3 linked regions of the Homo sapiens genome follow. The protein of the gene in region 1 purifies or fractionates together with the protein of each later gene. This does not show direct contact. Each region holds a gene or a part of one and is shown in the gene's direction. Other genes may lie near its edges. The genes, in order: HRNR, DSG1 and SERPINB12.

Region 1 (3,656 bases):
CTTTTAGTCATTCAAGTTGGAGTGCAGGAGAGAATGATTCCTATTCCAGAAACGTCAGAGGAAGTCTTAAACCTGGGACTGAATCCATATCCAGAAGACTGAGTTTTCAAAGAGACTTTTCTGGCCAACATAACTCCTACTCAGGTCAGTCTTCCAGCTATGGTGAGCAAAACTCCGACTCCCATCAGTCTTCAGGCCGCGGCCAATGTGGGTCTGGGTCAGGGCAGTCTCCCAACTATGGCCAACACGGCTCTGGCTCCGGACAGTCTTCCAGCAATGACACACATGGGTCTGGCTCAGGCCAGTCTTCTGGCTTTAGTCAACACAAGTCTAGCTCAGGGCAGTCCTCTGGTTACAGTCAGCATGGATCTGGCTCAGGTCACTCCTCTGGCTACGGACAACACGGCTCTAGGTCAGGACAGTCATCTAGGGGTGAACGACACAGATCTAGCTCAGGTTCGTCTTCCAGCTATGGTCAGCATGGGTCTGGTTCCCGTCAGTCTTTGGGCCACGGCCGACAAGGGTCTGGATCTCGCCAGTCTCCTAGCCACGTCCGACATGGGTCCGGTTCGGGGCACTCCTCCAGCCACGGCCAACACGGGTCTGGCTCAAGTTACTCTTACAGCCGTGGCCATTATGAGTCTGGCTCAGGCCAGACTTCTGGCTTTGGGCAACATGAGTCTGGCTCAGGACAGTCCTCTGGCTATAGTAAGCATGGTTCTGGCTCAGGTCACTCCTCTAGCCAGGGACAACATGGATCTACGTCAGGGCAGGCATCAAGCTCTGGCCAACATGGCTCCAGCTCACGTCAGTCTTCCAGCTATGGTCAGCATGAGTCTGCCTCCCGTCACTCTTCAGGCCGCGGCCAACACAGCTCTGGATCTGGCCAGTCTCCAGGCCACGGCCAGCGTGGGTCTGGGTCAGGGCAGTCTCCCAGCTCCGGCCAACATGGGACTGGCTTTGGTCGATCTTCCAGCAGTGGCCCATATGTGTCTGGTTCAGGCTACTCTTCTGGCTTTGGTCACCACGAGTCTAGCTCAGAGCATTCCTCTGGTTACACTCAGCATGGATCTGGCTCAGGTCACTCCTCCGGCCACGGACAACACGGCTCTAGGTCAGGACAGTCATCTAGGGGTGAACGACAAGGATCTAGTGCAGGTTCATCTTCCAGCTATGGTCAGCATGGGTCTGGCTCCCGTCAATCTTTGGGACACAGCCGACATGGGTCTGGATCTGGCCAGTCTCCTAGCCCTAGCCGTGGCCGACATGAGTCTGGTTCCAGGCAGTCTTCCAGCTATGGCCCACATGGGTATGGCTCAGGGAGGTCTTCAAGCCGTGGCCCATATGAGTCTGGCTCCGGTCACTCTTCTGGCTTAGGTCACCAAGAGTCTCGCTCAGGACAGTCCTCTGGCTACGGTCAACACGGATCTAGCTCGGGTCATTCCTCTACCCATGGGCAACATGGTTCTACATCAGGACAGTCATCGAGCTGTGGCCAACATGGAGCTACCTCAGGTCAGTCTTCCAGCCACGGTCAGCATGGCTCTGGCTCAAGTCAGTCTTCTCGCTATGGCCAACAGGGCTCTGGATCTGGCCAGTCTCCTAGTCGCGGCCGACATGGGTCCGATTTTGGGCACTCTTCCAGCTACGGCCAACATGGGTCTGGCTCCGGTTGGTCTTCAAGCAATGGCCCACATGGGTCTGTCTCAGGCCAGTCTTCCGGCTTTGGTCACAAGTCTGGCTCAGGGCAGTCCTCTGGTTACAGTCAGCATGGATCTGGCTCAAGTCACTCCTCCGGCTACAGAAAACACGGCTCTAGGTCAGGACAGTCATCTAGGAGTGAACAACACGGATCTAGCTCAGGTTTGTCTTCCAGCTATGGTCAGCATGGGTCGGGCTCCCATCAATCTTCGGGCCACGGCCGACAAGGGTCTGGATCTGGCCACTCTCCTAGCCGTGTCCGACATGGGTCCAGTTCAGGGCACTCCTCCAGCCACGGCCAACACGGGTCTGGCACAAGTTGTTCTTCCAGCTGTGGCCATTATGAGTCTGGCTCAGGCCAGGCTTCTGGTTTTGGGCAACACGAGTCTGGCTCAGGACAGGGCTATAGTCAGCATGGTTCTGCCTCAGGTCACTTCTCTAGCCAGGGACGACATGGATCTACGTCAGGGCAGTCATCAAGCTCCGGCCAACATGACTCTAGCTCAGGTCAATCTTCCAGCTATGGTCAGCATGAGTCTGCCTCCCATCACGCTTCGGGCCGCGGCCGACATGGCTCTGGATCTGGCCAGTCTCCAGGCCACGGCCAGCGTGGGTCTGGGTCAGGGCAGTCTCCCAGCTATGGCCGACATGGGTCTGGCTCCGGTCGGTCTTCCAGCAGTGGCCGACATGGGTCTGGCTCAGGCCAGTCTTCTGGCTTTGGTCACAAGTCTAGCTCAGGGCAGTCCTCTGGTTACACTCAGCATGGATCTGGCTCAGGTCACTCCTCCAGCTACGAACAACACGGCTCTAGGTCAGGACAGTCATCTAGGAGCGAACAACATGGATCTAGCTCAGGTTCGTCTTCCAGCTATGGTCAGCATGGGTCTGGCTCCCGTCAGTCTTTGGGCCACGGCCAACATGGGTCTGGATCTGGCCAGTCTCCTAGCCCTAGCCGTGGCCGACATGGGTCTGGTTCCGGGCAGTCTTCCAGCTATGGCCCATATAGGTCTGGCTCAGGGTGGTCTTCAAGCCGTGGCCCATATGAGTCTGGCTCCGGTCACTCTTCTGGCTTAGGTCACCGAGAGTCTCGCTCAGGACAGTCCTCTGGCTACGGTCAACATGGATCTAGCTCAGGTCATTCCTCTACCCATGGGCAACACGGTTCTACATCAGGACAGTCATCGAGCTGTGGCCAACATGGAGCTAGCTCAGGTCAGTCTTCCAGCCACGGTCAGCATGGCTCTGGCTCAAGTCAGTCTTCTGGCTATGGCCGACAGGGCTCTGGATCTGGCCAGTCTCCAGGCCACGGCCAGCGTGGGTCTGGGTCAAGGCAGTCTCCCAGCTACGGCCGACATGGGTCTGGCTCCGGTCGGTCTTCCAGCAGTGGCCAACATGGGTCTGGCTTAGGCGAGTCTTCTGGCTTTGGTCACCACGAGTCTAGCTCAGGGCAGTCCTCTAGTTACAGTCAGCATGGGTCTGGCTCAGGTCACTCCTCTGGCTACGGACAACACGGCTCTAGATCAGGACAGTCATCTAGGGGTGAACGACACGGATCTAGCTCAGGTTCGTCTTCCCACTATGGTCAGCATGGGTCTGGCTCCCGTCAGTCTTCGGGCCACGGCCGACAAGGGTCTGGATCTGGCCATTCCCCTAGCCGCGGCCGACATGGGTCCGGTTTGGGGCACTCCTCCAGCCACGGCCAACATGGGTCTGGCTCAGGTCGTTCTTCCAGCCGTGGCCCATATGAGTCTCGCTCGGGTCACTCTTCTGTCTTTGGTCAACATGAGTCTGGCTCAGGACATTCCTCTGCTTACAGTCAGCATGGTAGTGGCTCAGGGCACTTCTGTAGCCAAGGACAGCATGGTTCTACATCAGGACAGTCATCAACCTTTGACCAGGAGGGATCTAGCACAGGCCAGTCTTCCAGCTATGGCCACCGTGGCTCTGGCTCCAGT
Region 2 (3,656 bases), on another chromosome or scaffold:
ATCACATGCAACAACTCTCAAGAAAGCTGTCGTATATCAAATATAGAACTCTATTTGCTCCCTCTAATATTTTTACTTGTGTTCCTTCTGCAGATTCACTCAGATTGTGCTGCAAACCAGCAAGTTACATACCGCATCTCTGGAGTAGGAATTGATCAGCCACCATATGGGATCTTTGTCATTAATCAGAAAACTGGTGAAATTAATATAACATCCATAGTTGATCGAGAGGTCACTCCTTTCTTCATTGTAAGTGGACTTCATGTCAATATATATGTTCATGCTTAAATTCTTCTCAGAAGTTCTTAATCTCAGATCATACTTAATTTGATTTCAAGAGTCTCAATATTTGGCATTTTTGGTTGTTTCTTAATTCACGAGCATCCCACGACTGAAAAGAAATGCAAAGATTAAGAGAGAAGGAAATGTTTCACTTAAGTGTCAGCAAAAATGCTAACCTCTATACTGTCCTCATTGGCAAACTAGAGTATTTGTTTGGAAGGACAATTACCTAACTTTTTAATTTTTCCTTTTTTAAAAAATTCAGTAAAGAATGTTACCTTATTTTAAGTCTAATGTCAAGTAATGATTCTAGAGCTACTGCAGGACTGTTTTCTGAGCAAATATACTTTATTATAAATTCAGTAAAGAATGTTACCTTATTTTAGGTCTAATGACAAGTAAATGATTCTAGAGCTACTGCAGGACTGTTTTCTGAGCAAATATACTTTACTATAAATTCATATTCCTCAAGCTCACCTGAGCTCCAAATGCACCTTGAAAATGCATCCATTCTTAAGTGAATCTCACTCCATTCTTTACAGGAGCTGTCACATAGCTTAAGTATCCTATCTCTTCAAACCCTCAACCTCATTTCCACTTTAAGCAGTTGACCTTGTGACCAACTTTATGAAAAAGGCTGAGGCCATCCATCACAAACTCCCATAATTATTTCTCACTCGCCCAGCTCAGAAATGTTCTTCATTAAATCAAAAGCAGGATCAATTGTTTGCTTTTTCTCACAGCATATTCCAAGACATTTCCATGGTCCTATAATTGCCACTTACTTGGAGAATCATTCCATCACCTCTGTTTTCTGTCTCCCTTCTGCTGGCTCCTTGGCTACTCCCATTTCTCTCTATCGTCATGGCCAACACTTCTTAATATTAAAAATAGAAATAAAGAAACCCTATTTTGCTCCTGTTACCTCTTCTATTAAAACCCCACCAGTCCGTATCCCAAAATACCTTCAAATAATAATCGATATTTGCAGTTTTCACTCACACCGCCTGCCTGTATTCCTCACACAACTTTAATTCTTTAGCCTTCAATTCCAAATCTCTATTTCTCCCTTCTGTCCCACAATGATCCCCCACAAACTTTAAAAAGGCATGCTACCCTGTTAGCTTTTCTTGGGGCATAATGCATTTTTTTACGTCTTTATTTTTTTTTAGAGACAGGGTCTCATTATATTGCCCAGGCTAGTATCATAATGCCTTTATATATGAAATATGCCATTTTGTAAAATAGTACACATTACACTTAGGGACGCTTCAAATACAAATAATAATAGTAATAATAATAATCATAATAATAATATAAACCCCCATGTAGCTACTACCTAGCTTAAGAATGCCACATTTGCTTTCCCTTAGTGACTGTAAGTAGGGCTTGTGCCTATGTTCTAAGTAGACATAATAATTCTTTTAATTCGCCACAGTGCTAGCATAATGCTCAAAGTAAGAACTTAATAAATCTGTGTTTCACTGTATAATTATTTATCTTTTCTCTCCCAGATCTACTGCCGAGCTCTGAACTCAATGGGCCAAGATTTAGAGAGGCCTCTAGAGCTCAGAGTCAGGGTTTTGGATATAAATGACAACCCTCCAGTGTTTTCAATGGCTACATTTGCAGGACAAATAGAAGAAAATTCTAATGCAAGTAAGTAATGTAGTGGCTTCCAAATCACTCCTAACAGCCAGGCACCTAACTGGAGACTAAACTATGTCAAAGTACACATCATGAATGTAAGAGATAAACTATAGAAAAGATGCAGAATAGCAAGTCTTTCCTTTCAACTACGGAAGCAGCTCCAAACTGAGGGACACAAGGCGTGATTCCAAAGCAATGAGGAGGATTTTTCTCACATAACTCGCAGGCCAGCCCTGTAGAAGAGTCCTAACAAGAAATTTTAAAGGCATTTTGCACAATGGTGGCAGAGGCATCGGGATGTGAATTTAGCCTCCCAGTCTAACTGTGTAGAAGGACAATCCCACCCTTTTCTGCTCTTACTGCGTTTTTTCCCCTTTTTTAAAGTTAGCTACTTTAAAATCACTTATAGAAATCACTTCCACACAAAACTTCTTTTTGTGATTTAACCTTTAAGTGATAAAATTTCTTGTGAATTCCAAAAATCCCTACACTTTACTTTTATTCATTAAAATACTGTACCTATACTTTCAACTTTTAAAAGTGTTATTATAAAATGCTCATTAAATTTATGTAATATGGAAAGTAAAAGGGAACAAAAATCTGCTGTCTGCATTTCCTAGTACCATTCTTCAGAGGTATGCACTGTGTACATGCGCTCCATAATTATGTAAACATAAATCACATGTTTTTTAACATAAATGGTATCATCTGTTACATGCTAATCCACAACATGAATTTTTATATAAATATATTTTGAACATATTTCCATATCAGGACACATAATTGTTTCACTGCTTTCAATAGTTGCATGGAATTTAATTATATAAATTACATAAGTGTATATAAATGTTAATTATCTAGTGAAAACATTTTAAAGGTTATGCTACAATAAATACAGGTGGGGGATGACAGATGCCATGAAGCATTTGTAGGAAAATTGTATTTAAAATGGAGTTGGAGAGTAGAGAACAATTCCAAAGTTATGAATGAGCACTGGCAGTTTTCCACATTCTCCAATAATCTAATAATCTTCATCAAAACTACTTATAAAATTAATGAAAAGATAAGAGACAGGACAATATGTGTAGTTAAGCAAGCATTTCTTTAGATCTACTAATTACCTTGCACTTGACGAAGGATCACCCAAAACAAAACAGTAGTAATGTATATTTATCAAACGTGCATTATTCATTAGGAACTTTATATAGTTTTCTCTTATTAATGATTTAATTCTCACATGAATTCAGTAAGGATGGCAGTAATATCATCCCCATTTATAGATATAAAAATTGAGGCCAAGATCATATAGCTAGAAAGTGTTGAGAAAGTTGGGAAAATGTTGGTCTGGCCTTATTATCATTTTGTTTCGCCACAGCATCCTTTAAAAAAGAAGAAAATATGCTAGAAGAAGAAATAGAAAGCCAGAATAACACATTTCCTTTGTTTCCCAGTTATCAACAATGTCTAGATTCCTAGTAAAATGTGATCTTCTTGTTAGGCAAAGATATAGAAAAGAGCTAAGATATCCATATGTTGAAGGAGTAGAAAGGGAAGACAGTGAAGTCCACATCATAAGGATCAACTAACTCTAACACTTTTTTGGAAAGGTGATATACTCTACTGTAACAAAAATGTAAATCACCCATTTGCAATCAATTTTCCTTAATTTCTAGATACACTGGTGATGATACTCAATGCTACTGACGCAGATGAACCGAACAATT
Region 3 (3,656 bases), on another chromosome or scaffold:
TTACATGTGTAAAGTACCAAATGCAGCTTGACATTTAGTAAGTGCTCAAGAAATTCTCATCCCCTTGTTAGTGATTTATCAAGCTACCTTAATGTTTAGCTACATTTAGTGTCAGATTTCATCTTCGCTCATTGAGCAATCGCACCACACCAAATTTTTAGGCTTGTAGGGCACAGTCATCTGTAGTTAGATCTTTGTTGAATTATTTAAGAGGATAAACAGATGCAAATCTAGATTAAAGACATTCAAACAAGTTTATACTCTTCTCAGGTACCCAGAAGCCCAGTGAAATTTGAATATTATCCCCCAACAGTAACAGATGTGACACCTACTTCCAGGAAGCCAGGCAAGAACTCATCCTGTTCTGAATATGAATGGTATACCCTTTTGGAAAGGCTATGATGGGCAACATGAAGTAGTAATCAATGACATAAAATATTAAATAATTCACGTGTTAAAATTTTCCAAACTCTTGCAAATCATAACCAATGACTAGACTGGTTTTTAGAATTTTGTGGAAGAATTTAGAAAAAAAAATAATTATTTTCAAATGATCAAGGAGTAAAGAAAACTAACAGCACGTTTCTTTTCTATGCTTACTATTGATAATTCAGAAAAACTCTGGATGCTTAGTCATTAATTTCCACTGGTCAATATCTTATAAAACTTGTTTTATTTATACACTAGCTACATAAGTAGTTTATATTTTCCATAAAGGCCATCTCTCCATTTTAGAAAGTTTTCCTTTGAATTTCTCTACACCTAATGTATTTGTAGGGTCATGGTTCAGATAATATTGTTGTCTGACAACAAGTTAGAAAAGGAAGATAAAGGGCTCAGTAGGAGAACCAGGTCAGAGAGGGGTCCTCGTTTGTCCTTAAGACATGTCAGTTCCTGGAGTTTGACTCTTCCTAGCTTTCTCCTAGTTGCTCCACACTTTTTGCCCTATCCACTGACCCTCATGTTTACAGTCAGTAACATAACACGATTGTAGAGTGCTAGAACCAAAAGTAACATCAGAACATGCTTTGGCTAAGTTTAAAAAGTTTTGTGTTTTCAGTTGTAAAATATGTGTGTCAATAATCAAATAATAATTCTCATCCCTACCACACACCTACTGCAGGAAAGCAAAAACTTTGAAGTAGCTTAGAGCACATTTTGCAAATCCTATGTAATAACTTAGAAAGATTTTAGAATAATGCAAAAATTCAAATATAAGAAATCATCTAAGACAATGTGTATATGAAGTAAAATACATTTCTGCTTCATGGTCTTCTAGTATAGAAATTTGAATTGAAAAGTGTGAGCCAAGTATTGCTTTGAGGGCTCTATAAAATTGGAAAGAGCAAAGAAAATATAAGCATATTAAGTTAAATATTCAATGTAGTTAAAAGCATAGCATTTGTTTTAAAAATATATGCCACTCTTTTCTTTTCCCTTTAATCTATCAATGATGATTTTACTCTGGATTCCAAAATGGCACTGGAAAAGTTCCACAGAGGGAGGGGCAAAGTTGATATATTTCCATTCCCGACAGGGTGTGGAGGGAAGCTTACCTGACCAGCTGTTAGCAGCAACTCTGAGGGCAAGAAGGTAAATGCTCGAATTGCCTGATATAATTTTTAACAATGAACACTGAATTGGAAAACCATTTTAAAGGATAGAAACCCAGAGGAGATGTGATTGAAATAGAAGGATATACTTGTTTTTATTAAGTCAAATACTTAAAAAAAGTGAGTTAGTTTTATGATGTTTTGGATTTTCTGCAGATGTGGCAGTCATCACTGGGAGATATTAACAATGCTTGTCACCTCGCTCAGCCCCAACCACCTGGTCAGATGCCTGATGTATATGATTGATTTTTTTAAAATGTAGATGTTTGAATAACTTTTTAAACTTTCACATACTTGACATATTGTATTTTATCTTTTAATGAATTATTTCTGAAACATAAGATGGTATAATATTTAGAATATCTATATTTTAAACAATGTGAGTTAGATTTTTTTTTTTTGCACCATAAGTTGGAAAACACTTTCGATGGTATTGTTCACAAGTATTTCTTTGTTTTTAGATATTGGTTATTATTTAGTTTGCTGTAACCTGGTTTGAATATTTGTTCCAGCAGAATAGCATCTATTTGTGTAAAGTTTGAATTTCATTCTTGAGTTGTTAGTAGCTTTGTGGGAATTATAGAAATTATAAGACATGAAATATTTTTGGAGTATAAATATTTTTCTTCCTACTATATATAGGAAAAAACAGTTTTACTCAGAATATTTTGGGTTGTTAGAATGTCTATCTTGTCTAAACCTTTACATTTTTACTATAAGGGAAAATTGTAATAAATGAACTTTTTCTTATACAGTAAATGAATTTTTTTTATATTGCAGTAAGTGAACTTTTTCTTATATAGTAAAAAATTAATAAAAAGCTGATTCTCTTATGCAGAATCTCTGTTAATTACAGCTTCCTGCAGGATATATAAAGTTAATATGAAATGCTAAATAGTCTTCTAACATTTCAAACATTAGGATTATCTACAATGAAAAATGGGCAGATGACAGCAAATCAATCCATAAATATTATGAAGGGTTCTCATGTGCTACCATTGTGTTCTTCACGGATGGGTACAAGGATGAATTAAAAACACTGAACCTACCTTCAAGACAATTATGATTTGGAAGTAAAGACATCAGTATAAAAAATAATTACCTTACAGTGTGATAGAGGAGTTAAGGGAAACAAATGTTGTATGGTTATTGTATACAGTGGTGACTAATTAACTCTTTAGAGGGAGAGGTTGGAGGAAAGTGGAAGAAGGTTTTACGTGTGTAACAAAGCCAGAAGGAAAGAAAACAAGCAAAATAGATCATTTGTTGATACCTCAAACACCATAAAAATGGAAAAAAATACCTTTAAAAAATTAAAAATGTTACACATTTCAGATAGTCAGTATTTAAAAATGTATCTTCAAAGCTAACAATGTAAGTTAAAATCTTACAGGAAAGATTTTCTTTCTTGTAAAAAATTGAAAGTAGATGAGGTTTTAAAATTAAGTTGAAAATACATTACCCTCAAGGTTTTGAAGTGATAGAAGAGAGTGCCAGAAAATATTGACAATTTTCAGTAAATAAGAGTAAAAACAATTCTATAATAACAATAAAGAAAATAAAGGAAGGTAAAACAGGGGAAATTTTTTTAAAGAACAAGTTTGAAAAACATAAAATGTTTATATAATATGAAGAGTTCATAATGATCCATAAATAAATGATCAAGACCTCAATAGATAATTGAAAGATGAACAAGAGACAGTTAATATGTGAGAATTTATAAAGAGAAAAGAACACATGGAGAAACATTCAAATGTTAGCAAGTATCAATGCCATGTAAATTTAAAAATAATACAATTTTCTTTTTATTTTTTAAGTTATTAAGAATGGCAATAATATCTGAAAAAGGTGATTATGATATAGCAGTTTCATCTGTAACTTTTGGCTGACAGTATGAAAGTTAAAAATCTTTATAATATTTGACCTAGAAATCCCATGTTGAAGAAGATACTCTGAAGAAATAATATGAAGGGAGATAAAAGCTATATTTATGACAATGTTTATCGTAGAATTATTCATATTAATAAAAACTGGGAAGCTAAT

The links.
Region 2: the proteins of HRNR (region 1) and DSG1 purify together in Homo sapiens (affinity purification with mass spectrometry, with the first as the bait; one large-scale study listed by BioGRID). This does not show direct contact.
Region 3: the proteins of HRNR (region 1) and SERPINB12 purify together in Homo sapiens (affinity purification with mass spectrometry, with the first as the bait; one large-scale study listed by BioGRID). This does not show direct contact.

The regions. Positions count from the first base shown.
Region 1 is NC_000001.11:152,217,597-152,221,252, reverse strand, and holds part of HRNR (hornerin), read left to right. Parts: coding exon 1-3,656. UniProt on the Homo sapiens protein: Component of the epidermal cornified cell envelopes.
Region 2 is NC_000018.10:31,328,096-31,331,751, forward strand, and holds part of DSG1 (desmoglein-1 preproprotein), read left to right. Parts: intron 1-93; coding exon 94-249; intron 250-1,796; coding exon 1,797-1,941; intron 1,942-3,605; coding exon 3,606-3,656. UniProt on the Homo sapiens protein: Component of intercellular desmosome junctions. Involved in the interaction of plaque proteins and intermediate filaments mediating cell-cell adhesion.
Region 3 is NC_000018.10:63,545,357-63,549,012, forward strand, and holds part of SERPINB12 (serpin B12), read left to right. Parts: intron 1-270; exon of another isoform or gene 271-374; coding exon of another isoform or gene 375-377; intron 378-1,544; exon of another isoform or gene 1,545-1,593; intron 1,594-3,656. UniProt on the Homo sapiens protein: Inhibits trypsin and plasmin, but not thrombin, coagulation factor Xa, or urokinase-type plasminogen activator. May play a role in cell differentiation.